5 separate regions of the Homo sapiens genome follow, and regions 1, 2, 3 and 5 are each linked to region 4. Evidence: fine-mapped expression QTL. A gene starts in region 4. Each other region holds a variant in brackets. All regions are shown on one strand. Distances are from middle to middle.

Region 1 (5,129 bases), 24 kb after region 4:
AATCCTCCCACCTCGGCCTCCCAAAATGCTGGGATTATAGGCGTGAGCCACCGCACCTGGCCATGAACTTTAAAAGGTGTTTTTTTGTTTTGTTTTGTTTTTCAGAGATGGGGTCTTAGGAATCTGAACACATTCTGGCCTGGAGAGATTGCCCAATAACTTATTTTATTTTATTTATTTATTTATTTATTTATTTATTTGAGATGGAGTCTCGCTTTGTTGCCCAGGCTGGAACGCAGTGGCATGATCTCAGCTCAATGCAGCCTCTGCCTCCGAGTTCAAGCAATTCTCCTGCCTCAGCCTCCTGAGTAGCTGGGATTCCAGGCACCTGCCATGACGCCCGGCTAATTTTTGTATTTTTATTGGAGATGGGGTTTCGCTGTGTTGGCCAGGGTGGTCTTGAACTCCTGGCCTCAGGTGAGCCACCCACCTCGGCCTCCCAAAGTGCTGGGATTACAGGTGTGAGCCACTGCGCCTGGCCCCGATAATTATTTTAAAAAAGAGAAAAAGACAGGGTCTCACTATGTTGTCCAGGCTAGCCTTGAAGTCCTAGGCTCAAGCGATCCTCCAGGGCTTAGATCTTTAAAAGGTTGTTGTAAGAATCATATGAGATAGCGTTTAAAGTGCCTGAAAGAGTGACTGTCACAGAGGAAACAATAAATGTTGGCTGTGTATTGAAAATGCTTTATAAACTGCAGAAAATATGGCAGGTTCTCAAATAACATCACTTCGCTCAGCATCATTTAGTTATAACGTTGAGGAGAAAAATAACTGATTCCTGGCATGGCCACTATCTGTATGGTGTTTGCATATTCTCCCCATGTCTGTGTAGGTTTTCTCCGGGTACTCCATTTTTCTCCCACATCCCAAAGATGTGCATGTGAGGTGAGTTGGCATGTTTCCATGGTCCTAGTCTGAGCAAGTGTGGATATGGGTGTGAGTGCACCCTGTGATGGAATGGCGTCCTGTCCAAGGTTGGTTCCTTGTGTTGAGCTGCGGGACAGGCTCTGGCCACCCTTGGAAATGAATGATTGAATTCAAATTATTGTCAAGTAAAAATTCATAAAGTAGACAATAATCATACAGATGCACAACAATAAAAGATGTGATACAGAAACACTCAGCGAGCCTGCCATATTTGTTATTGTTCGTTTTTGAACTGCATGATGGTAGAAGGTTCTCCTTGCAATTTTAACTTTGCATACATTTATTATTTGATTTAACCCACCACCACAACAACCGCCATCACTCACTGATTCACCAAAAATTGGGTAAATAATAATGTATATATTTTTTGAGACGGGGTCTTGCTCTGTTGCCCAGACTGTAGTGCAGTGGCAAGATCACAGCTCACTGCAGCCTGGACTTCCCTGGGCTCAGGTGATCCTCCCACCTTAGCCTCTTGAGTAGTTAGGACTATAGGCAAGTGCCACCACAGCCAGCTAATTTTTTATATTTTTGTAGAGACAGGGTTTCACCACGTTGCCCAGGCTGGTCTCAAACTCCTGGGTTCAAGTGATCCACCTGCCTCAGCCTCCCGAAGTACTGGGATTTTAGGCATGAGCCACTGCACCCAGCCCAATAATGATCTTCCTTATTTTTATAAATATTTCTTAAATATAGAGATATTTCGCCGGGCAAGGTGGCTCATGCCTGTAATCCCAGCACTTTGGGAGGCCGAGGCGGGTGGATCACGAGGTCAGGAGATCGAGACCATCCTGGCTAACATGGTGAAACCCCATCTCTACTAAATGTACAAAAAATTAGCCAGGTGTGATGGCGGGCGCCTGTAGTCCCAGCTACTTGGGAGGCTGAGGCAGGAGAATGGTGTGAACCTGGGAGACAGAGCTTGCAGTGAGCCGAGATCGCGCCACTGCACTCCAGCCTGGGCGACAGAGCGAGACTCCGTCTCAAAAAAAAAAAAAAAAAAGGGATATTTCACATTTATTTCAGTATTTGATGTTTGAAGTGTTTTGGGTCTTTATTTAGAATTTTAGTGATGTTTTTGTGACAGAAATATGCTGTAGGAGCTTAAGTTCTTGTTTATATCAATTAGCCTATGGTAAAATTGGTTTCTTTATACATTGTTTTGCCTATAGTCACAATTTCCAAGAACCTGTGGATGACATTAAGTGAGGACTTTTGTTGTATTGGTAATTAGAGAGGCAGAGGGTCATGTTTGAAGAAGACCTACCTTTAAGGGATGGGAGGAAAAGGAAATAATTTTAAAAAGGGAAGGAGGAGTCAGAATGTTGGGATAACCAGGAAATTAGCTTGTCAAGGAAGTGTTAGTGGGGAGGATGTGATCAAAATTGTTGATGTGATGACTTATAAAGGATTTCCCATCTGTTTCAGTTTTCATTAGATACCCTTTTTTCGTGAACTCTTGGAGCCATTTTGTCCATAATTTTATAATACGTATATATACATATATATTTTTTTTAATTTATTTTTTTGAGAGGAAGTTTCACTCTTGTTGCCCAGGATGGAGTGCAGTGGCACAATCTCAGCTCACTGCAACCTCCACCTCCCAGGTTCAAGCGATTCTCCTGTCTCAGCCTCCTGAGTAGTTGGGATTACAGGTGCATGCCACCACGTCCAGCTAATTTTTGTATTTTTAGTAGAG[A/C]CCAGATTTCATCATATTGGTCAGGATGGTCTCGAACTTCTAACCTCAGGTGATCCACCCGCCTCAGCCTCCCAAAGTGCTGGGATTACAGGCGTGAGCCACTGCACTCGGCCAGTTTTATATAATAATAAGTAATAATTTTGTAGGCCGGGCGCAGTGGCTCATGCCTGTAATCCAGCACTTTGGGAGGCCGAGGAGGGCGGATCACCTGAGGTCAGGAGTTCGAGACCATCCTGACCAACATGGTAAAACCCCATCTCTACTAAAAATACAAAAATTAGCCAGCGTCGTGGTGGGCGCCTGTAATCCCAACTACTCGGGAGGCTGAGGCAGGAGAATCGCTTGAACCCAGGAGGCGAAGGTTGCAGTGAGTCGAGATCATGCCATTGCACTCCAGCCTGGGTGACAGAGTGAGACTCCGCCTCAAAACAAACAAACAAACAAAAAAAAACGAAAAAAAAGGTCGGGCTTGGTGGCTCATGCCTGTAATCTCAGCACTTTGGAAGGCCGAGGCGGGCGGATCACGAGGTCAGGAGATCAAGACCATCCTAGCTAACACGGTGAAACCCTGTCTCTACTAAAAATACAAAAAAAATTAGCCGGGCGTGGTGGTGGGCGTCTGTAGTCCCAGCTACTTGGAAGGCTGAGGCAGGAGAATGGCGTGAAGCCGGGAGGCGGAGCTTGCAGTGAGCCGAGATTGCGCCACTGCACTCTAGCCTGGGAGACAGAGCGAGACTCCGTCTCAAAAAAAAAAAGTAATAATTTTGTAAAGCACCTTACAGTTTACAAAGAGATTTAACAACCTCTTCCAATTCTCTCAACTTCCCTGTGTGGTCTATGTTGTCCCTGTTTAGTAAATGAGGAAATGGAGGTTCAAGAGACAGTAACTTGCCTAAGCAACAGAGCTTGAGCTGCTGTAGGTCTTCTGATACTCTGTCTCCTTTGATAATCTTGTTTGCCTAGTTAGATTGTAAATTTCTTGAAGCCTGAATCTAACCAGTTATTTCTTTTTATTCTTTATAGCACCTAGCTCCATGCTGCGCAGGAAATATAAATATTCAAACTAGATTGACTGGACTGGCCGTGGTCAAAAATAACTTGCCCTTTCTCCCTTCTGCCCTCTAGCGCCCTCACAAAGCCAATGCTGAGGAGATGACCAAGTACCACAGCGATGACTACATTAAATTCTTGCGCTCCATCCGTCCAGATAACATGTCGGAGTACAGCAAGCAGATGCAGAGATGTAAGTCCATTCTGTTCCCTCACACTCTGAAGCCGCCAGTTGCATCTCCCTTTCCACTGTAGAGGCCCATTCTGCCGTCCTCGCACCTCCCATTCAGTGGACACCTGATTTCCCCTACCTCCTAAAGGTGCCAGAGTGCTTTTTCCCCTCAAGTCGGATTTTTCATGTTTCCTGATTTGTAAACGATAGAGGTAGTACTTTTTCTGGTTATGTTCACAACACTGTCCCAAGAGTACTGTAATTATTGTAGTGGAAAAAGCACTGACCTGGGACGGGGAGACAATAGATACAGTAAAATTTAACTCTAACTCTCAGCTGAGTGGGCAAGTCACTTCCCCTCAGATTCTTCTTTTGTAAAGTGGGCTGGGCCACATGATCTCTGATTTCTGTCCAACTGTAACTGTTTTGACTTAGTGGGTATTAATTGAGAATTTAGAGGCCACTCAGGACAGATTCTAGATGGTGTAATCTTTGAGATGAGGTGATGCTGCCCCTGATCCCTTGGACTTGAACTTCAGAGCAGGTCCCATCTTGGAAGCCACGCTTAGTTTGTAGGAATCGTGGGAATTATTTTAGCTGTGAGGGGGAAAAAAAAAGTATTCAAATTTGGGACAAAACTATCATACCTGACTTCCCCCTTGTGTTATTTTAGAAATTATCTCTTAGCACCTAAGACTTCATATAGTATAACAGCACTGTCCAGAAGAAGTTTTGATTAACTTATGACAGCTTATATGGAAGTGTCAGAAAATATGCGGCACTTGTTTGTTGCTGCTGACCACAAGGTAGTCTTACTCCCAAGGAAGAAAGTTATTTATAACTATTATTACAACTAATAATAACTGTACAGTGGTATTGATGGCAGAACCACAGAGACCTTCCTTGAAGCATTAAGCTTCTTTGCTACCGACAACTCCAGGAGCTGCCAGCTGCTGTGAGTGAGGTGTTTGCTCTCTGAATTGCAGGGTCTTATTTCCCTCCAAGATGAGGCAAATTCATGCCTTTCCTGTAGATGGCTTTAGAGGTTTCCATAACCCATTTAGGCCAAGGATCAGGCTCTACTCTCAGCACAGTGGGCTCTCACTAGAGGAGCAACTTGCTATTAAAGTAAGAAAATAAGCTTTCATGTCTTAGTTTGAATCCTTGGTTTCCTAGCCCCTCTGGTGTTATTTCCCGCCCCTGCCACTTTTTTTTGAGACAGAGTTTCGCTCTTGTTGCCCAGGCTGGAGTGCAATGGGGCGATCTCTACTCACCACAACC
Region 2 (5,129 bases), 210 kb before region 4:
CTCCACCTCCCGGGTTCACACCATTCTCCTGCCTCAGCCTCCTGAGTAGCTGGGACTACAGGCGCCTGCCACCACACCTAGCTAATTTTTTGTATTTTTAGTAGAGACAGGGTTTCACCGTGTTAGCCAGGATGGTCTCAATCTCCTGACCTCATGATCTGCCCGCCTCGGCCTCCCAAAGTGCTGGGATTACAGGCATGAGCCACCGCGCCTGGCCAACCTGTTCTATTTCTAACCTGGACCAGTTCATCCCCTCCTTAGGCAATTATGTGGTCCCCCACTCCCAGGAGTTCACCATATGGATGCTGAACTTCTATGCAGGCACCTCATCGGCATAGCACATTATAGCATAGAATTCCTCGGCTCAAGCAATCCTCCCACCTCAGCCTTCTGAGTAGCTGGGACTATGGGCATGCGCCATCATGACCTGCTGCCTCATTTTTTTAATGGCCTCGCAGTATTCTATGTTATAGAATTTTCACAATTTATTTGTCTTCTATTGGCAATTTTTTTTTTTTTCTGAGATGGAGTCTTGCTCTGTTGCCCAGGCTGGAGTGCAGTGGTGCAATCTTGGCTCACTGCAGCCTCCAACTCCCGGGTTCAAGCAGTTCTCCTGCCTCAGCCTCCCAAGTAGCTGAGACTACAGGCATGCTCCACCAAGCCCAGCTAATTTTGTATTTCTAGTAGAGATGGGGTTTCTCCATGTTGGTCAGGCTGGTCTCAGGTGATCCGCCTGCCTTGGCCTCCCAAAGTGCTGGGATTACAGACATGAGCCACCATGCTCGGCAATTTTTTGTATTCTTAGTAGAGATGGGGTTTCACCGTGTTAGCCAGGATGGTCTCGATCTCCTGACCTCGTGATCCGCCCACCTTGGTCTCCCAAAGTGCTGTGATTACAGGCGTGAGCCACCGTGCCTGGCCTACTGGCAAACTTTTAAGTTGTTTCTAGCTTTTCCTTATTCATAACAATGAATAATTGCATATGTGTCCAGTATCTCTGCACAGTAGATTCCCAGAAGAATTAACTACACCAAAAGATGGATTCATTTAGATTTTTCATAGTTATTAACAAATTGTCCTTCGAAAGGGTTGCACTGGTTAGAACTTAAGAGTTGCCTGTCGGACGCGGTGGCTCATGCCTGTAATCCCAGCACTTTGGGAGGCTGAGGCGGGTGGATCACGAGGTCAGGAGATTGAGACCATCCTGGCTAACACAGTGAAACCCCGTCTCTACTAAAAAAATACAAAAAACTAGCCGGGCATGGTGGATGGCACTTGCAGTCCCAGCTACTCGGGAGGCTGAGGCAGGAGAATGGTGTGAACCTGGGAGGCGGAGCTTGCAGTGAGCCAAGATCGCACCACTGCACCACTGCACTCCAGCCTGGGCAACAGAGTGAGACTCTGTCTCAAAAAAAAAAAAAAAAAAAAGAGTTGCCTTAATTTGACAGTTTATGGTTACTACCTGGTGAATCTTTTCTTCATGGATGCAGATAACACCCAATGTCATATTATGCTTTATTTTTCATTATTTAATTTAAAAATGTTTATTGACCAAATATAAACATATTGTAAAAAATTAAATCCAATAGTGCTGAAAAGCTTATAATGAAAACCATTGCTGGGCACGGTAGCTCATGCCTGTGATCTCAGTGACTTGGGAGGCTGAGGTGAGAAGATTGCTTTAGCTGGTGGATTTGAGGCCGAAGTGAGCCATGATCACACCAGTGCACTTCAGCGTGGACAACAGAGTGAGACCCTGTCTCTAAAAATAAATAAATAAATAAATAGAAAAACATTAGTCTCCAATCCCGCCTCCAGATTTTTAGTCCCACTCTTCATAGAAAAACATTAGTCTCCAATCCCGCCTCCAGATTTTTAGTCCCACTCTTCAATAGCAGTCTCTTTTACTTTCTGGGTTTTTTTATTTGTTTGTTTGTTTGTTTGTTTGTTTACAGACAGAGTCTGTAAACCTATTATCCAGTTCTAAAGTGGCACTGCACTCCAGCCTGAGTGACAAGACCCTGAGTCAGGGTCTGGCTCTGTTGCCCAGGCTGGAGTGCAGTGGTGCAATCTCGGCTCACTGCAACCTCTGCCTCCCAGGCTCAAGCCGTCCTCCCACTTCAGCCTTCTGAGTAGTTGGAACTACAGGCATCAGCCACTGTACCTAGCCTGCTTATTCTTTTTAAAAATTTATTTATTGGCCAAGCGTGGTGGCTCACGCTTGTAATCCCAGCACTTTGGAAGGCCAAGGTGAATGGATCACTTGAGGTCAGGAGTTCAAGACCAGCCTGGCCATCATGGTGAAACCCTTTCTCTACTAAAAATACAAAAATTAGCCAGGTGTGGTGGTGCACGCCTGTAGTCCCAGCTACTTGGGAGGCTGAGGCAGGAGAATTGCTTGAAACTGGGAGGTGGAGGTTGCAGCGAGCTGAGTTTGCACCACTGCACTCCAGCCTGGGCAATAGAGTGAGACTCTGTCTCAAAAAAAAGAAAATTATTGATTTATTTTAGAATTGAATAAGAGGTTTACATAGTTAAAATTCAGAAGGTTTAAAAGAGTATACCATGAAAAAGTCTCCCCTTGACTGCTGCCTCCCAGCCACCCAGTTTCCTTTCCAAGAGGTAATTATCAATGTTTTTGGTTTCTTGTATATCCTGGAAACAAAT[G/C]TTCTACGCATATACAAACATACCACATACACACATATGCAAGTATATTGATTCCCTGCAATGACAGATGATTTAGCTCACGATCCCATCCTTACTGTTCCCAGTAATTGATAGCTTTTAATATTTTTAAGTTTCTGTTGGTTATTTTCATCAATAGTATAAGTATCCCTATACTTTTTTTTTCCATCAACAATAGTATCTTGAATACTTTTTATGTAAGACAAGAATATTAGGCACCCTATCCAACCACTTTTCCTCCCCTCTTCCTCTTTTCACTTCCTGGCAGCTGTATTTTTACTTTTATATCGTCAAGCTTGACATTCACATTCTCCTATGTAACCACATTTAAGCCTTCCATTCTTTGTCTAAGCCTAATTCTGAAAATTAAAAACCAGTATGTGGCTTTGATATAATTATGTGTATGAAAATATCATTCACTCCAGGGCCCAGTAGTATGCATACATGACATTTCTTCTCTGTAGTTACAGAGTTACAGTCTTGGACCTCTTTATTTATTTATTTTTATTTTTATTTTTTTTGAGATGGAGTCTCTCTCTGTCACCCAGGCTGGAGTGCAGTGTCACAATCTCAGCTCACTGCAACCTCCGCCTCCCAGGTTCAAGCAGTTCTCCTGCCTCAACCTCCCGAGTAGCTGGGATTACAGGTGTGCACCACCACGCCCAGCTAATTTTTTGTATTTTTAGTAGAGATGGGGTTTCGCCATGTTTGCCAGGCTGGTCTCGAACTCCCAACCTCAAGTGATCCATTCATCTTGGCCTCCCAAAGTGCTGGGATTACAGGCATGAACCACCAAGCCCAGCCAGGAACTTTTTTTGTTTTTTGTTTTTTGTTTTTTTTTGAGACGGAGTCTCGCTCTGTCGCCCAGGCTGTAGTGCAGTGGCACGATCTCAACTCACTGCAAGCTCTGCCTCCTGGGTTCACGCCATTCTCCAGCCTCAGCCTCCCGAGTAGCTGGGACTACAGGCACCCGCCACCACGCCTGGCTAGTTTTTTGTATGTTTAGTAGAGACGGGGTTTCACCGTGTTAGCCAGGATGGTCTCGATCTCCTGACCTCGTGATCCACCCGCCTCAGCCTCCCAAAGTGCTGGGATTACAAGCGTGAGCCACCGCGCCCAGCCTGGTTTTTTTTTTTTTTTTTTTTTTTTGAGACGGAGTTTTGCTCTTGTTGCCCAGCCTTGGTGTGCAATGGCGCCATCTCTGCTCACTGCAGCCTCCGCCTCCCAAGTTCAAGTGATTCTCCTCCCTCAGCTCCCGAGTAGCTGGGATTACAGGCATGCGCCACCATGCCCAGCTAATTTTGTATTTTCCGTAGAGATGGGGTTTCTCCATGTTGGTCAGGCTGGTCTCGAACTCCCGACCTCAGGTGATCCACCCACCTCAGCTTCCCAAAGTGCTGGGATTACAGGTGTGAGCTACCACGCCTGGCCGGCAGGAACATTTTTTTAAAGGACTTCTTTTTTTTTTTTTTTTTTTTTTTTTTTTTTGAGATGGAGATTCGCCGTTGTTGCCCAGGCTGGAGTGGAATAGTGCAATCTTGGCTCACTGCAACCTTCACTTCCCAGTTTCAAGCGATTTTCCTGCCTCAGCCTCCCGAGTAGCTGGGACTACACGCGCCCGCCACCACGCCTGGCTAATTTTTTGTATTTTTAGTAGAGACGGGGTTTCACCGTGTTAGTCAGGATGGTCTCGATCTCCTGACCTCGTGATCCGTCCATCTCAGCTTCCCAAAGTGCTGGGATTACAGGTGTGAGCCACCGTGCCCAGCCTTAAAGGACTTCTTTAAAGGACCTGTACTCCCAGCTACTCAGGAGGCTAAGGTATAAGAATCGCTTGAACCCAGGAGGCAGTGGTGCAATCTCAGTTTATTGCAACCTCTGCCTCACTGGCTCAAGCCATCCTCCCATCTCAGCCTCCCAAGTAGCTGGGACTACAGGTACAGGCTACCATGCCCAGCTAATGCCAGAGGTTACAGTGAGCTGAGATTGTTCCACTGCACTCCAGCGTGGGCAATAGAGCAAGACCCTGTTTCAGACACACAGACACACACACACACACACAAATGTTCCTAGTGTCAAGGTGAAATGATTTTTCTTACATTCTATCAGTTACTTAAAATCATAGCACATTTTAGTTTGCTTCATGTTTACACCATAGCTTTCTTATATGGCTTTTTATTTTTCTTGGACTTTCTAATTGCCTTTCTTTTTTCTTATTGACAAAAGAATGATGAGCCTTCATCATATCCTCAAGTTTATCCAGCCTCTCAGTCATACTGCCTGTTGCCTGGAGTCCATTTCCTTCTCCCTGCTTCCCCCTACAAAGGCATCCCTCCTGGAGCCCTTCCTCCTCCTGCTGCAGTCTGGAGTGTTTGCTCTTTAGGTCTGCTGTACAGCTCTCAGCCTGGGACTTCCCTTTGCTGCCCTCCTGGGTTGGACCCCCT
Region 3 (5,129 bases), 42 kb before region 4:
CACCACACACTCCCTGGCACGCTCTTCTCACCCTCAACTTCTGCCACCTCTCCCTGGGCAATACTGCCAGCCTTTCCCTAATCTCAGAGCTGCAGCCCTGCCCTGTCACTCACCTCAAACCTGCCATGTCCCTGGGGCTACTGAAATTCCAGGCAGTGGGTGAAGAGGACGAGGAGGATGAGGAGGGGGAGAGCCTGGACTCTGTGAAGGCACTGACAGCCAAGCTGCAGCTGCAGACTCGGCGGCCCTCATATCTGGAGTGGACAGCCCAGGTCCAGAGCCAGGCCTGGCGCAGGGCCCAAGCCAAACCTGGACCAGGGGGACCTGGGGACATCTGTGGTTTCGACTCAATGGACTCCGCCCTTGAGTGGCTCCGACGGGAGCTGGTGAGTCTGGTGGGGTGGGCAGCTTTGCCCAGGGCCTTCAGGCTGGTCCTCCTTAGGGTCCAAGACCACAGGCATGGGGAAGGGATGAGAATGGACCCTGCCTCCAGCAACCGCCCGCTCCGGTGTCCTGGGCTGAGGAGCCGGGAATGGACTTGTCCAGTGTTGTATTCAGGGAGGCTTGCTGAAGAAGGATTCCATCCAATCTACTGACCTTGTGCTCCTGTTGCTTAGGGGACAGAGCACTGGTGTTGGGGGGTGTGGGGCACCATTATAAATAGGGAAATACACAGCCTCCCCTACTCTGGGACTTTCTATGGCCTAAAGATACAGCGAAGTGCAAAAGGAGGCACTGGCCATGCTGCAGGCAGATTCTGAAGAGGTGAAGTTTCAGTAGGTGGCTCCCAACTCAACATGTGCAAATATAAAGATACCCAGGCTCCAACACAGAGATTCTGCTTAGTTGATTTGGGATGGGGCCCAGGCAGTTGGATTTGCTTAATAATGACTCCTTAGCTGGGTTTGAGAACCACCAGGTGAAGCCAGATTGGGAGATAGGGAGAGATCAAGCTGAGGTGAGAGGGGGCTGGGGAGGACACAGTCAGTGCAAAGGCCCAGCGTTGCCAGGAAGGGAGAAACGGCGCGCGGCCGAGGGCCTGTCCAGTAGGCTCACGCCCCCTCTCGGCCGCAGCGGGAGATGCAGGCGCAGGACAGGCAGCTGGCAGGGCAGCTGCTGCGGCTGCGGGCCCAGCTGCACCGACTGAAGATGGACCAAGCCTGTCACCTGCACCAGGAGCTGCTGGATGAGGCCGAGCTGGAGCTGGAGCTGGAGCCCGGGGCCGGCCTAGCCCTGGCCCCGCTGCTGCGGCACCTGGGCCTCACGCGCATGAACATCAGCGCCCGGCGCTTCACCCTCTGCTGAGGAACACCTGTGCCCCCCGACTCCCCGCCCCCTCTCCCAATGCCGCTTCCCCTGCCTGCCTGGGAAGAGGAAAGGGAGGGGTGCCCCAGAGGCACCAGCTCCTGGCGGGGGAGGAGGAACATTCAGGTTTCTGAGAGCTGAATTCCAAGAGTGCAAAACCCCAGCATCCTGTTTCCTCTGCTGACCCAGCTGGGAGGGGGAGGAGGAGGAGCTCACACCCTCAAACTCCTCAATAAACGCTTTCTCTGGTTCCCATCAAGGTCTCTTGCAGTCGTTTATTCAGGCCCAAGGCCGCTATCTGAATGTCGCCTGTCACTGGGACCACCCTAGTTCACTGCAGGCCCATGGGAGGTGACTTAGGTAAATTGGGCTCCTGAAGAATGCAGAATCTGAGAGACATGGGTTCAAAGCCAGCTACCCCGTTTATTTCTTTTTGTTGTTGTTATTTCTTCTGCTTCTTTTTTTTTTTTTTTTTTTGAGGCAGAGTCTCACTCTGTCACCCAGGCTGGAATGCAGTAGCACAATCTCAGCTCACTGCAACCTCCGCCTCCGGGGATCAAGCGATTCTCCTGCCTCAGCCTCCCAAGTAGCTGGGATTACAGGCGGCCACCACCTCGCCTGGCTAATTTCCTTTCTTTTCTTTTCTTTTTTTTTCTTTTTTTTGAGATGGAATTTCACTCTTTCGCCCAGGCTGGAGTAGTGGCGCGATCTTGGCTCACTGCAACCTCCACCTTCTGATTTCAAGCGATTCTCCTGCCTCAGCCTCCCAAGTAGCTGGGATTACAGGTGGCCACCACCTCGCCTAGCTAATTTCCTTTCTTTTCTTTTCTTTTTTTTTTCTTTTTTTTGAGATGGAATTTCACTCTTTCGCCCAGGCTGGAGTAGTGGCGCGATCTTGGCTCACTGCAACCTCCACCTTCCGATTTCAAGCGATTCTCCTGCCTCAGCCTCCCGAGTAGCTGGGATTATAGGCACCCGCCACCATGCCCGGCTAATTTTTGTATTTTTAATAGAGACAGGGTTTCAGCATGTTGGCCAGGCTGGTCTCAAACTCCTGACCTCAAGTGATCCACCTGCCTGGGGTTTCCAAAGTGCTAGGATTACAGGCCTGAGCCACCGTTTATTTCTATTCGACCCTGAGGAGCTCCCTTAACCCCTGAGTCTGTTTCCTCACCTCCACAATGGAGATGCTGATTCTCACTCCACAGGCAGCAGATGTGCCTTACGGGAGATAGTGCACAGTGAGCGCTCAGTGAATATGAACTATTACTCACTCCCAGCGCGGCAGTCTTTCTACTCTGTGCTGAGACAGGGAGATGGACCGTGAAGTGTTCAGGCTTACATTGCAAGGGAGTCTGGGCCCTGCACCAGGCTTGGAGCTCCAACTCTAGGCTCTGTGTCACTGTGAAGGTTTTTCACTTTGTCTCTCTCAGCCTTT[G/T]TTTCTGTGTTACCCTCTTTGTCTGACTTTCCAACTCAGGCTTCCTCTTCCCCCCACCTATTTCCTGCCCCCACTTCTCTCTGCAGCTGAGGTGCACACAGCATCGCTTCCACCTCACAAGCCCCAACAATGCTCTGTGGGTTCCCCTCCCCCTACCAGCTCACTCAGGCAGTGACGCATGTGCACTTTCCTCCTGGTGGGGTCAAGGCCGAGTTCTTGGACCTGATGAGGCCACCTGGAGTTCCTCATATCACTGGTGACCTGGCCCTCAGCTAATGATGGGTGCCCCCTCAGCCTGGCCCCAGGGGAAATGGAAATTCTTTGCCTGCCTGCTGCTCGTGACAATCTTCTTGCCTCCTGCTTATAACAGAAAGTCCTGACAGTCTGTGGCCTGCACCTGGGGGCCTGAGCGGCCCTGTTTGCTCTGTCTTCCACCTGTTGCAGGAGATAGTGCCAAGCCCTCCACCTCTGCCAGGGGCTGTGGCCTTGCCTCTACCTGAATTCGAACTGTTGCCCTACTCTCCAACCATGATTAATGGGTGTTGTCCTGGCCTCTGACTACAGCAGGGGCCGTTACTATGCCCTCTTGAAGACATGAGGTTGTCCTGTCTGCCTCCTGAAACAGGCTGTTTTCCAGCATTCTGTCTGTAAGAGGGATGGTAGCCTGCCATTCACCTACCCTTGACTATAATAAAGCTACTGTTCCATGCCCTGAGATGACATGGGAATTGTTCTCTCGGCCTGACCTGACTGTAACATGCATGGTCTGCTCACCAGCTATTTAACAGGGATATTGTCCTCTCCTCTGACTCTGAACGATGCTACCTTTGCTGCCAGACAGAAACAAAAGGGTCTCTCAGCTGCAACGGTGGTGCTGAGGTGCTGTTTGCCTCTCACCATAAGCTGAGTGTGTGTCCGCTTGCCCCCTGCTCACTGGGCCCAAAGGCTGCCCTTGAATCTCTTGCCCAGATGCACCCTGGAGGGCAGAAGGGAGGGTCTATCAGACATCCTCCCCTCAACTTTAAACCTCCCAGTGTCACCCTGGGACAGTAGGGGAAGATGGACCTGGTCTGGAGATGTAGGGGACCCCCAGGGGCTGAGAGGCAGGGGTCTATGGTGGCAGGAAGCTTGGCGTGCTAGAGGGTTGTGGTTGGGCTGCTGGGGCCCGGTTGGCTGCGGAGCCCTCCGGAGGAGGCAGGAAGTCAGGGTGGGACGTGGGCGCGGGGAGACAGGTGGTGGCTACGACGGCGAAGGGAGCTGAGACTGTCCAGGCAGCCAGGTTAGGCCAGGAGGACCATGTGAATGGGGCCAGAGGGCTCCCGGGCTGGGCAGGTAAGGAGCGCTGGTATTGGGGGCGCAGGCGCCGGGGTGAGAGGCCTGATAGCAGACGGCTGCAGCTGTGCGGGCCCAGGCTCCCTAGGGATGCAGCAGCCCTTTGTGGCTGGGGAGAGAAGATCCTCGCTCAAGGTCAGGTGGGAGGCAGGCAGTGTAGCTGGGTCGCCTCTTTCCTGCGAAGCTGGTGTCGCTTGCCTCTGTCGTGCTGTCCACCAGTGGCCCCACCTGACTGGGAGCGTGTTTCCTGGACACCAGGCACATGGACAGTCAGGTGTTAAAAAGGCTTCCAGAAACCACCAAGCCCAGTCCCTCAGGCCATGAGGATGAGGCTCCTGAGGCCCAGAGAGAACAAGGCACTCACTGCCCACGGTTTCTCAGCAAGGCAGTGGCAGGGCTGAGAGTGATGGCTGAGGCTGTGGCCACCCCGCCTGGAGCAGGGTGATGGACAGGCTGGACTCAGAGGACCCAGGAATCCTTCTGGTTTCTGGGGCAGACCCCAGTGACAAGAATCTCCTGAGAAAGAGAGAGAGAGAGAGAGAGAGAGAGAGAGAGAGAGAGAGAGACAGAGATCACCCAAGGCATCCAGATGGACATGCGAGGAGTGATTTTAGCCTCAGCGATCGAGGGAAGAATCTCCTGATGGGCGTGAACTGATATGTGTGGGGGTGTCCATCATCTGGGATGGAGCTCCAGGGTGGATGGACATATCTGATCTGAGTATGGGAAGTTGGAAGTGAAAGAGAATGATGGGAGAAAGGAAGAGGAAGTACTATTTTTATCCCAGACAGGGGTGCAGTTGGTCCTGGGTGAGGAAGCGCTGAACTTCCATCTGGAAAGTCACCATTCCTGCCCCTGCCAAGCGTCACAGCAGGATGTCCTCCCCTCGCCCCTGGCTCCCTCCCGCTTCAGCCCTGCCTGTGTAGGGCCAGTTGGTTTTGCTGATTCCTGCTTCAAACCCCAGGGAGGTGGAGAGAGACTGGGGAGGCATAGTTGCTACCTGCTCACCTCCTCACTTTTTAACTCTGAGCCTTAATTTTTTTGGGAAGTCCTC
Region 4 (5,000 bases):
GAGAATGGCGTGAACTCGAGAGGTGGAGCTTGCAGTGAGCCAAGATCGCACCACTACACTCCAGCCTGGGCGACAGAGTGAGACTTCATCTCAAAAAAAAAAAAAATTATATATATATATATACATATATATATGCAAACAAAGAGCATCTGAGTCATAATAATGTAAATCTATCACCTGACTGACCTGCTGCCACACCTCATGATCTCATCTGATCCCCACACTCCTTCTCTTTGGGATACTGTGTACAGCCATAGCGTGGGTGAACTTTGTATTCCTATCCTCCCCATTTTTGTTATTTTATTTTATTTCTTATTTATTTGAGACAGAGTCTCACTCTGTCATCCAGACTGTAATGCAGTGGCCTGATCTCGGCTCACTGCAACCTCCACCTCCCGGTTTCAAGCGAATCTCCTGCCTCAGCCTCCTAAGTAGCTGGGACCTACAGGCACACACCACCACGCCCAGCTAATTTTTGCATTTTTAATAGAGACGGGGTTTCACCGTGCTGGGCAGGCTGGTCTCGAACTCCTGACCTCAGGTGATTTGCCCACCTCAGCCTTCCAAATTGTTAGGATTACAGGCATGAGTCACTGTGCCCGGCCTCCTCCCCATTTTATAACAAGGGAAATGGAGGCCCAGAATGGTTAAGTAAACCCACCCAGGGCTAGCTGAGAATTAGCAACAGAGAACTGGGAGTAGAATTTGTTCCCTGGCCCTTTGCTGTTTCTATTATAAGCCACCCAGTCTTAGATTTTCTGTTACCTTATAATTAATGACTCAAATGCAGTTTCTGAGTGAGAAACACAAGTCCCAAACACTCTTTAAAGAGGCATAAAGATGTATCTTGTTGTTTTCTTTTGTTTGAGACAAGGCCTGGCTCTATTGCCCAGGCTGGAGTGTGGTGACATGATCTTGGCTCACTGCAACATCTGTCTCCTGGGCTCAAGCCATCATCCCACCTCAGCCTCCTGAGTAGCTGGAACTACAGGAGCGCGCCCCCACACCTGGGTAATTTTTCTATTTTTTGTAGAGATGGGGTTTTGCCATGTTGCCCAGGCTGGTCTCGAACTCCTGAGCTCAAGTGATCCACCCATCTTGGCCTCCCAAAGTGCTGGGATTACAGGCGTGAGCCACTGTGCCCAGCCTCTTGTTGACTGTAGGACCACAAGTTGGCGGCTAACTTAGAGCAATGTTTGGCACACAGGAAGCACTCATTAAATATTGACATTATTGTAGTTATTTTAATAGCCCAGCATTGCACTTTTAGGTCTTTCAGCTTTCAGTGATGATCAGTTGATAATTGATGATCTGGTGGAGTGGTTCTTAATGGTAGAGTTGGGGGCAATTTTACACTCCCTTACACCCCACTAATCTTCCCCCCAACCCAATGGTAAAGCTATTGCACAGTACTTGGCAATGTCTAGAGACAATTTTGGTTGTCACAGCCTGGGGGGAAGGTGCTACTGGCATCTAGTGGGTAGAGGCTAAGGATGCTGCTTAATTTTTTTTTTTTTTGAGACAAGAGTTTCACTCTAGTTGCCCAGGCACAGAACAGCTTCACAGAAGCTGTTAATGCACAGAATAGCTTCCTACAAAAAAGCATTACCTGGCCCAAAATGTCATTAGCTACCAGGCTGAGAAACCTGCCCTCCTAGGCCGGGCGCTGTGGCTCACGCCCGTAATCTCAGCATATTGGGAGGCCGAGGTGGGCGGATCCTGAGGTCAGGAGTTCGAGACCACCTGGACCAACACGGAGAAACCCAGTCTCTACCAAAAATACAAAATTAGCCGGGCATGGTGGCACATGCTTGTAATCCCAGCTACTCGGGAGGCTGAGGCAGGAGAACCGCTTGAACACAGAGGCAGAGATTGTGGTGAGCCGAGATCACACCATTGCACTCCAGCCTGGGCAACTAGAGCGAAACTCTTGTCTCAAAAAAAAAAAAAAAAAAAAAAACAGGGAAAGAAAAGAAAGGAAACCTGCCCTCCTATCATAGGATAATCCCATTTCCTCCTGTCTAAAGAGACGCCTACTTAGTCATCCTGGGTGACTGCATCAGGGAGGTAGATTTTGGAGTCTGAAAGGCTGGGTTCTGTCACTTTGTTACAGTGCCTCTGGTGCAAAGAAAGCATTTTAAAAACCCTGTACAATTAAAAAATTGAATTTAATTACTTTGTGTAACTTTGAATAATTCACAGAAGTCTGAACTTCTTTATCCTGTCCTGTAAAATGGAGGTAAAAAGCCCTTGGCCGAGAGCTGTTTTGAGGAAAAACTGAAATAACATTGGTAAAGTGTCGCACAGTACTTGGCACACAGCAGCCCCTCGACAAACATTAGCTTTCTTTCCCTTTCTTGTCGGTTTCTTCCTCTCCAAACCCGCGTGTTGCTTTTCTTTTTAATTATTTTTCTGTAGCCCTCCTTTGCGGCCACAAACTCGCTTTCTAACCCAGGTTCAGCCCTTTTATTGGCTGAGTGACCTTGTGCAAGTCACTTTTCCCCTGTAGGCCTCGGTTTATTCTCCGTAAAATCAGAAAGTTGGCCTCCGATCTCCAAGCACGCTTTTCACGACGAAGTGGGACTGTTAAGTTTACAGAGCTGCTTTCCTCCCCCGGGACTGATGGTACGGTCCCCGGGCGGCTCCCCACCCATCTGTCGCAGACCTTGGTACAGGCCCAGGGGGCCCTCGGCGGCCTCTCCGGGCTGCCCTTGCCCCCTGCCGAGTTCCGGGCCCGTGTCTGCGCAAGCTGATTGGCTGGAGCGGTGCCCGGGCTGCGCGGCTATAGGTGAGCCCAGGAGGGGACGGGCGGGGCGGGCCGGAGGCCCGCCCCCTCCCCCCTGGGTCGGACGCTGAGCGGAGCCGCGGGCGGGAGGGCGGACGGACCGACTGACGGTAGGGACGGGAGGCGAGCAAGATGGCGCAGACGCAGGGCACCCGGAGGAAAGTCTGTTACTACTACGACGGTGAGCACCGTCCTCGCGGCGGGGGCGGGGCCAGGCCGGGCCGGACCGGGAACCTGGAGGCTGAGGCTGGAGCGCCGATGGGAGGCTGCGGGAGGCTGAGGCGCTGGGGAGAGGCTCGGAGAGGAGGCTGCGAGGGGGAAGTCGAGGCTGAGGGAGGAGGCTGCGAGGAAGGGAGATCGAGGCTGAGACCAAGAGGGGATCGCGTGGGGGAAGCGTGAGGTAATCTTGATGGGAAGATTCTGAGGAAGTCTGATGTGGAGAGTTTGAGTGGGACTCCTAGAGGGGAGGGTGCGTCGGAGCGGGGAGGCTGAATCTGATGGAGACGGCTGCAAGGATACATTTTCTTGCCGAGAACCCAAAGCTCTTCCCTGCCCCGTCCCTTCCTCATCTTTTCTGGGGGAAGAGTCCTGCACGACTGGTTGCCCGCCTCCCCTCCCCCAGCCTCTGAGCGGGGCCTGCGGTTGCTACTGCGACGTGGGGCGCCAGGGGTTGCAAGGAGAAGGATGCAACCTGTTAAAACAGACTTCTCACTTAATCTCTCAAGCAGGTTACTGTGTTCGAGGAAGTGTTGAGGGGCTGGGGCCGTGGGGTTGATCGGGTCACCCTTCCCAGTGACCGAAGTTCTCTCCGTGTCAGAGCTCAGAGTGTTAGGGGAGCACAGAGAAGAGGCACCGAACTCCACCTGAGGAGTCAGCGAAGGAGGGGACATCTTAGTTAGGACCTGAAGAACAGGAGTTCTTAGCCAGGCACAGGGAAGGCAAAGATAACAGCAAGTTTCAGAGGCAAGAGAGAGGACAGGACCTTTGAAAAACAGGCATTTGGCCGGGCGTGGTGGCTCACGCCTGTAATCCCAGCACTTTGGGAGGCCGAGGCTGGTGGATCACCTGAGGTCAGGAGTTCGAGACCAGCCTGGCCAACATGGTGAAACCCCGTCTCTACTAAAAATACAAAATTAGCCGCGCATGGTGGTGTGCGCCTGTAATCCCAGCTACTCTGGAGCCTAAGGCAGGAGAATCCCTTAGAACCCGGGAGGCAGAGGTTGCAGTGAGCTGAGATCGTGCCACTGCACTCCAGCTTGGACAACAGAGCGAGGCTCTGTCTTAAAAAAAAAAAAAAAAAAAGATGTAAATAGGGACCGGACCATGAAGGGCTGGGCATGCTGTCCCAAGGAAGTTGGACTTTATTGAGGGCACTTGTGAGTGATTCAAGTTTTATGCAGGTTATTGACATCATCAGGTTTATACCTTAGAAATTAAAGTAATGGGGGCCAGGTGCAGTGGCTCACACCTCTCTAATCCCAGTACTTTGGGAGGCTGAGGCAGGCAGATCACTCGGGGCCAGGAGTTCAGGACCAGCCTGGCCAACACGGTGAAACCCCATCTCTACTAAAAATACAAAATTTAGGCTGGGCACGGTGGCTCACGCCTGTAATCCCGGCACTTTGGGAGGCTGAGGCGGGCGGATCATGAGGTCAGGAGTTCAAGACCAGCCTGACCAACATGGTGAAACCCTGTCTCTACTAAAAATACAAAAATTACCCGGGTGTGGTGGTGCGCACCTGTAATCCCAGCTACTCAGGAGGCTGAGGCAGGAGAGTCGCTTGAACCCAGGAGGCAGAGGTTGCAGTGAGCCAAGATTGCACCGCTGCACTCCAGCCTGGGCAACAGGGTGAGACTCCATCTCAAAAAAAAAAAAAAAAATTAGCGAGGTGTGGTGGCACATGCCTGTAGTCCCAGCTACTCAGGAGGCTGAGGTGCGAGAGTTGTTTGAACCTGGGAGGCAGAGGTTGCAGTGGGCTGAGATCTCACCACTGCACTCCGTCCTGGGCAACAGAGCGAGACTTCGTCTCAAAAAAAAAAAAAACAAAAAAATTCAGATTGTAGGGGTAAGGAAGAAGGCATGGATCCCAAGTTCCTGGTGTGGGCAGTATTTTTTATTTTTTGAGATGATGTCTAGCTCTGTCACCCAGGCTGGAGTGCAGTGGCTTGATCTCGGCTCACTGCAACTGCAACCTCCACCTCCCAGATTCAAGGG
Region 5 (5,129 bases), 35 kb after region 4:
TTTGTGCCACTGCACTCCAGCATGGGCAACAGAGCAAGCCCCTGGCTCTAAAAAATAAAAAAATAATAATGGGCTAAAGCTCAAAGATGTTAAACAACTTGATGCAGTCATACAGCCAGGAAGTAGAGCCTGGACTAGAACCCACACCTCCTGAATTTAAATTCTGTGTTTTTTTCCATCAGCTCATAAATATGTAAACTAAAGGAAATTGTGGAAACTAACCTTTTGCTTATTTCTTTCAAGTCAACGTTGGTGAGGACTGTCCAGTATTCGATGGCCTGTTTGAGTTCTGTCAGTTGTCTACTGGTGGTTCTGTGGGTAAGGAATATTCATCTTCTCCCCAGGGGTAGACTGGGTTGTTCTAGTGAGGTCTGCCTTTTAGGCTGCTATCCTAGTTGGCTGATCTGAAACCATGTAGAATGGTCCTGTGGTTTTTACTGAAGTCTCTAAAATGGCTGGTGTAGTGTCTCACACCTGTAATCCCAGCACTTTGAGAGGCTGAGGAGGAGGATTGCTTGAGGTCAGGAGTTCAAGACCAGCCCAGGCAACATAGACCCTCCTGTCTATAAAAAAATAAAATAAGTAAAAACAATTAGCCGGGCATGGTGACTCGTGCCTGTAGTCCCAGCTACTCAGGAGGCTGAGGCTTAAACCCAGTAGGTTGAGGCTGCAGTGAGTCGTGGTCACACCACTACACTCTAGCCTGGGCAACAAAGCAAGACCCTGCCTCCAAAAAAAAAATTTAAAAAGCCTCTAAAATGTCCCTCTGGTTCAGTCCCAGCCCAGGTTCAATCTCTGACATGGTACTGACAGGTGTCCTTGACTGTCCTTTCCTACTAAGAGATCTTATGTACAGGCGTTCCCCGCAGACCTCCTGGGGTTGTTAAGATGCTGTACGTAAAAGCAATTTGTGAACTGCAAAGTGCTATAAAAATGGAAGTGTCATCATCTGTGAATCTGTCCTATGAAAAAGTATGGTAATTACCTTTAGAGGTCAGAAATACTCCTCATGTATCTCCCACTTCCATTTGCAACTTTTGGGTTATCTCCAGGATTACTCTAAACGCTTTCTTAACAAATATTTATTTTCCTGTGATCCCCCACCAATATAATCATTGTGTCCATCCCCGCTGCCCCACCAATATAATCACAGAAAACAAAGAAGTGCACAGAAAAAAACACAATCACCCACAGTCACAGGGTTGGTGGATAACCTCTGTTACCATGTTGGTGTTTGTATGGCCATTCTTTTGTGTGTGTGTTTATATCTGTGTCACACATATACAACATCTATATTTTACAAAAGTGGGTTATATACATATCACATATATATGGTTTTATGCCTGCATTTCCTACTTAACGAAATTGTCTGTAGTTTTCTACAGCTTGCTTTCTTGTGGCTCTATGATTATTCCATGTTGTGGATTTACTTGAGTTGATATAATCTGTCCCTCTTCTTGATAATTTGGATCAATCTATGCTTTTATTGCTGTTAAAATCAACACTGCAGCTGGACACGGTGGCACATGCCTGTAATCTCAGCACTTTGGGAGGCTGAAGAGGGTGGATCACCTGAGGTCAGGAGTTTGAGACCAGCCTGACCAACATGGTGAAACCCCATCTATACTAAAAAATACAAAAATTAGCCGGGCGTGGTGGTGTGTGCCTGTAATCCCAGCTACTTGGGAGGCTGAGGCAGGAGAATTGCTTGAACCTGGGAGGCGGAGGTTGCAGTGAGCCGAGATCGCGCCACTGCACTTCAGCCTGGGTGACAGAGTGAGACTCCATCTCAAAAAACAACAACAAATTAACACTGCCACAAATGCACTTGCACACATGGGTGTGTATTTATCTTTTACTTCTTCTGGGACCTATTCGTGCTAGTGCTTTTTGACCTAGTGTATCAGCACTATCTTTGGTAATTTTTCTTTTTCTTTTTTTTTGAAATAGAGTCTCCCTCCATCACCCAGGCTGGAGTGCAGTGGCGTGATCTTGGCTCACTGCAACCTCCGCCTCCTGGGTTCAAGCGATTCTCCTGCCTCAGCCTCCCCAGGTAGCTGGGACTACAAGTGTATGTCACCACGCCCAGCTAAATTTTTTCGTATTTTTAATAGAGATGAGGTTTAACCATGTTGGCCAGGCTGGTATCGAACTCTTGACCTCAGGTGATGTGCCCGCCTTGGCCTCCCAAACTTCTGGGATTACAGGTGTGAGCCACCGCGCATGGCCTATCTTTGGTATTTTTTCAAAGTTCCTTGACCATGAGCCATAGTAAGAAATAAATTTACACATGCAATCCAGGATACATATAACATATGCATGCATGCACACACTCACTCACTCTGAAGCCAGAGTTTTACAAAAGAGCAGTTACCCTTACTGTTACTCTGATATTTTTTTCTATGCTATTTCATTAAAAAAATATATATATATATACACACACACACTAATCATGATGTACTAAATCAATTTTAAGGCCTGCTAATGGGTTACTACCCTCAGTTTGGAAAATCGTTTTTTACGAGTAGACAGTATCATGTATTCCCTGCTGAAGTAGGGTGGGAGGGAGGGGACTGGTCTATGAATTGCACAATACAGCTGTTGAATAGGCAGGTCTTAACCTTTCACTAGGTTCCCTGGGCTTCTTGGAGGAAGGGGAGAGTGGCTTAGTAACAGGCTTATGTTCTCTTTTCTCATGCCCAGCAAGTGCTGTGAAACTTAATAAGCAGCAGACGGACATCGCTGTGAATTGGGCTGGGGGCCTGCACCATGCAAAGAAGTCCGAGGCATCTGGCTTCTGTTACGTCAATGATATCGTCTTGGCCATCCTGGAACTGCTAAAGTATGCCTGCCTGGCCTTGTCTCTTGGAAGAGCACCTTAGGCCAGGTTCCCATTTCCCTCTTCCCCTGGGCTTGCCTCCCTAGTTTGCTTTTCCTACCGATGTGCTGGCTAGGATGTGCTCGGTGAGTGTCTCTGGCCATCATCTCCTTGATGGGGTCTTGGTTTGATCTGAGCCACGGCATGATCAGGGGCAGATGCTGCTCAGATCCTGCCTCCAGAGTGTCCCTGTGTGGCTGGAGTTGACCCTGGCTGTAGAGTAGGAAGAT[C/T]GGACTTGGTCGGCTTGGTCAGGCCTCTGGAGACACCCGGCCGCTCTTCCACCTTCCTTCAGCCAGTTTCCACGTCTCTGGTGCTTAGAGATACCTGAGGGAGGCAGCCAGCCCGGTAAGCTGGGAGCTAGCGCCCTTGGCACGTCCCATCCCCAAAGAGCCCCCAGACCCCTGACCCCCTTCTGATCCTAGGTATCACCAGAGGGTGCTGTACATTGACATTGATATTCACCATGGTGACGGCGTGGAAGAGGCCTTCTACACCACGGACCGGGTCATGACTGTGTCCTTTCATAAGTATGGAGAGTACTTCCCAGGAACTGGGGACCTACGGGTGAGAACGCCCTTTAGGAGCCAACCGGCTTACCCTCAGCTGGCAGCTCTACTTCTCTCTCCTATCTCATGCCACTAAAAATTGCTTCTTGCCTCTTCTGCCAATCAGAATACCACATCCCAATCTGAAGCACTTGCCCTGATCTCTTTCCCTTCCTTATTCTGGAGGAAGGGAATGATGGGACATAAAGGGCCAGAGAAAGAAGAGGGGTCTCCTGACTCACTGTACTTTCCTCCTGGCCACAGCTGGGTTGCATCACACTATTCTTATGTCTCATAAGCCTTGAGTTTGGGGGTAGGAATTGGGACTCTGAAGGACATCTCAAGTGTTCTTCATGTTTTTGGGTCACTTTCCCCTTTAGCCTTTTGACTGAAAACTATGGACTGTCTCTCCAGAAAAGTACATGAGATTTTACATCTGATATAGAATAGTTAATAGACAAGTCCCCTTACTGAAGCCCATCCATGAACCTTAGGATAAGAATCCTTGGAAGCTACTTCGTTGAACTGTTCCATCTGCTTCTATTAGCATGAATGTGGTGAAATCAGCTGCTTTGCCATGCCTGGTAGCCCTTGGGTAAAAAAGTGGCACTAATTCAGTTGTTTGCCATGGCAAGCGTTAGAATAAATGAGCATTCACTTTTTTTTTTTTTTTGAGACAGTCTCTCTCTGTCACCCAGCCTGGAGTGCAGTGGCGTGATCTCGGTTCACTGCAGCCTCCGCCTCCCGCCTCCAGGCGATCTTGTGCCTCAGCCTCCGAATAGCCGGGATTTAGCTGGGATTATAAGTGCGTGCAACTATGCCCGGCTAATTTTTGTATTTTTAAAAGAGATGGGGTTTTGCCATGTTGGCCAGGCTGGTCTCGAACTCCTGACCTCAAGATTCACCCGCCTCAGCCTCCCAAAGTGCTGGACTTAAATAGGCGCACTCACTATTTTGAGGTTACTGGGAAGGACTTTCTTACCTCTCTCCTTCCCTCCACAACACCCTAGAGAGGGAGCATGGGGGAAGAGGAGTGAGCATTAGAGCTCTCTGGAGTGGAAAGGGTTGTCAAGGGTGGCTGTCACTTCTGTGACTCACCTGCCAGCCAGCTCTAACCCAATCCCAAGGTAGAAATCTTGTGCTATAGGGTAGGCTATTCAATCTCTGGTCCCATCAAGAGCTCTCAGTCTGGGGGTAGGCTTAATGCTATGTCCAGAGATGATTTGCCAGTGAAGCTAGATTTGCCAGTGAAGAGAATGGTACTAACAAGGTACCTCTGTTCTGTCCTGGCCCACATCATGGGCCTAGCTTGTCTCTCTTGAACCTCTTCCTTTATCCCTCCAGCCCCTATCCTTGACCTTCCTTCAAGCTTCATCCTTCAGTTTTACTTTAATGGCCTTTTTAATTAGGATATCGGGGCTGGCAAAGGCAAGTATTATGCTGTTAACTACCCGCTCCGAGACGGGATTGATGACGAGTCCTATGAGGCCATTTTCAAGCCGGTAAGTGGCTTTATCCACCCCTTGGGCTACAAACAGGGGATTGGTTGGCGGTGGAGGGGAGCAAAGCACCCCCACCATACCTCAGGAATCTCTCCTTACTAAAGCTGGTGGGGAGATAGAAGTGTTTGAACCCTGGATTGCTGTGTGGTCAGTTAGGGGAACAAACACCCATATTTATTGGTTCCTTCTATGGGTCAGGTCTTC

Which allele goes with the higher level. Positions count from the first base shown, and alleles are read on the strand shown. Sizes are in standard deviations (SD) of each study's normalised expression. Not every link is listed here.
With allele G in place of T in region 3, the expression in visceral fat of the gene that starts at base 2,831 in region 4 is higher (small effect, 0.18 SD a copy in GTEx).

Evidence for each region. PIP is the estimated chance that this variant, and not a neighbour inherited with it, causes the effect.
Region 1: its variant is fine-mapped to the expression of HDAC1 in whole blood (TOPMed, PIP above 0.99).
Region 2: its variant is fine-mapped to the expression of HDAC1 in whole blood (TOPMed, PIP 0.93).
Region 3: its variant is fine-mapped to the expression of HDAC1 in visceral fat (GTEx, PIP above 0.99).
Region 5: its variant is fine-mapped to the expression of HDAC1 in whole blood (INTERVAL, PIP above 0.99).

Annotation. Positions count from the first base shown.
Region 1 is chr1:32,312,914-32,318,042 of GRCh38, forward strand. It overlaps HDAC1 (histone deacetylase 1), which reads left to right. Exons shown (of 14, transcript NM_004964.3): 3 at 3,752-3,869. Among named protein-coding and RNA genes, the nearest start is that of MARCKSL1, 21 kb to the right of the region's middle. The variant A/C (reference allele first, on the strand shown) is at 2,627.
Region 2 is chr1:32,079,267-32,084,395 of GRCh38, forward strand. The region is part of intron 5 of TMEM39B (transmembrane protein 39B); the gene reads left to right. Among named protein-coding and RNA genes, the nearest start is that of MIR5585, 5.1 kb to the right of the region's middle. The variant G/C (reference allele first, on the strand shown) is at 2,668.
Region 3 is chr1:32,247,297-32,252,425 of GRCh38, forward strand. It overlaps FAM167B (family with sequence similarity 167 member B), which reads left to right. Exons shown (of 2, transcript NM_032648.3): 1 at 1-386; 2 at 1,075-1,560. The coding sequence starts at 126. The coding sequence ends at 1,305. LCK (LCK proto-oncogene, Src family tyrosine kinase) reads left to right here and starts at 3,969. Exons shown (of 13, transcript NM_005356.5): 1 at 3,969-4,075. RefSeq lists enhancers at 1,184-1,343, 2,572-2,781, 2,972-3,181, 3,232-3,321. The variant G/T (reference allele first, on the strand shown) is at 2,744.
Region 4 is chr1:32,289,253-32,294,252 of GRCh38, forward strand. HDAC1 (histone deacetylase 1) reads left to right here and starts at 2,831. Exons shown (of 14, transcript NM_004964.3): 1 at 2,831-2,966. The coding sequence starts at 2,918. RefSeq lists a silencer at 2,545-2,954 and enhancers at 3,565-3,624, 3,696-4,270.
Region 5 is chr1:32,324,236-32,329,364 of GRCh38, forward strand. It overlaps HDAC1 (histone deacetylase 1), which reads left to right. Exons shown (of 14, transcript NM_004964.3): 4 at 244-318; 5 at 2,704-2,842; 6 at 3,301-3,442; 7 at 4,833-4,925. Among named protein-coding and RNA genes, the nearest start is that of MARCKSL1, 9.4 kb to the right of the region's middle. The variant C/T (reference allele first, on the strand shown) is at 3,109.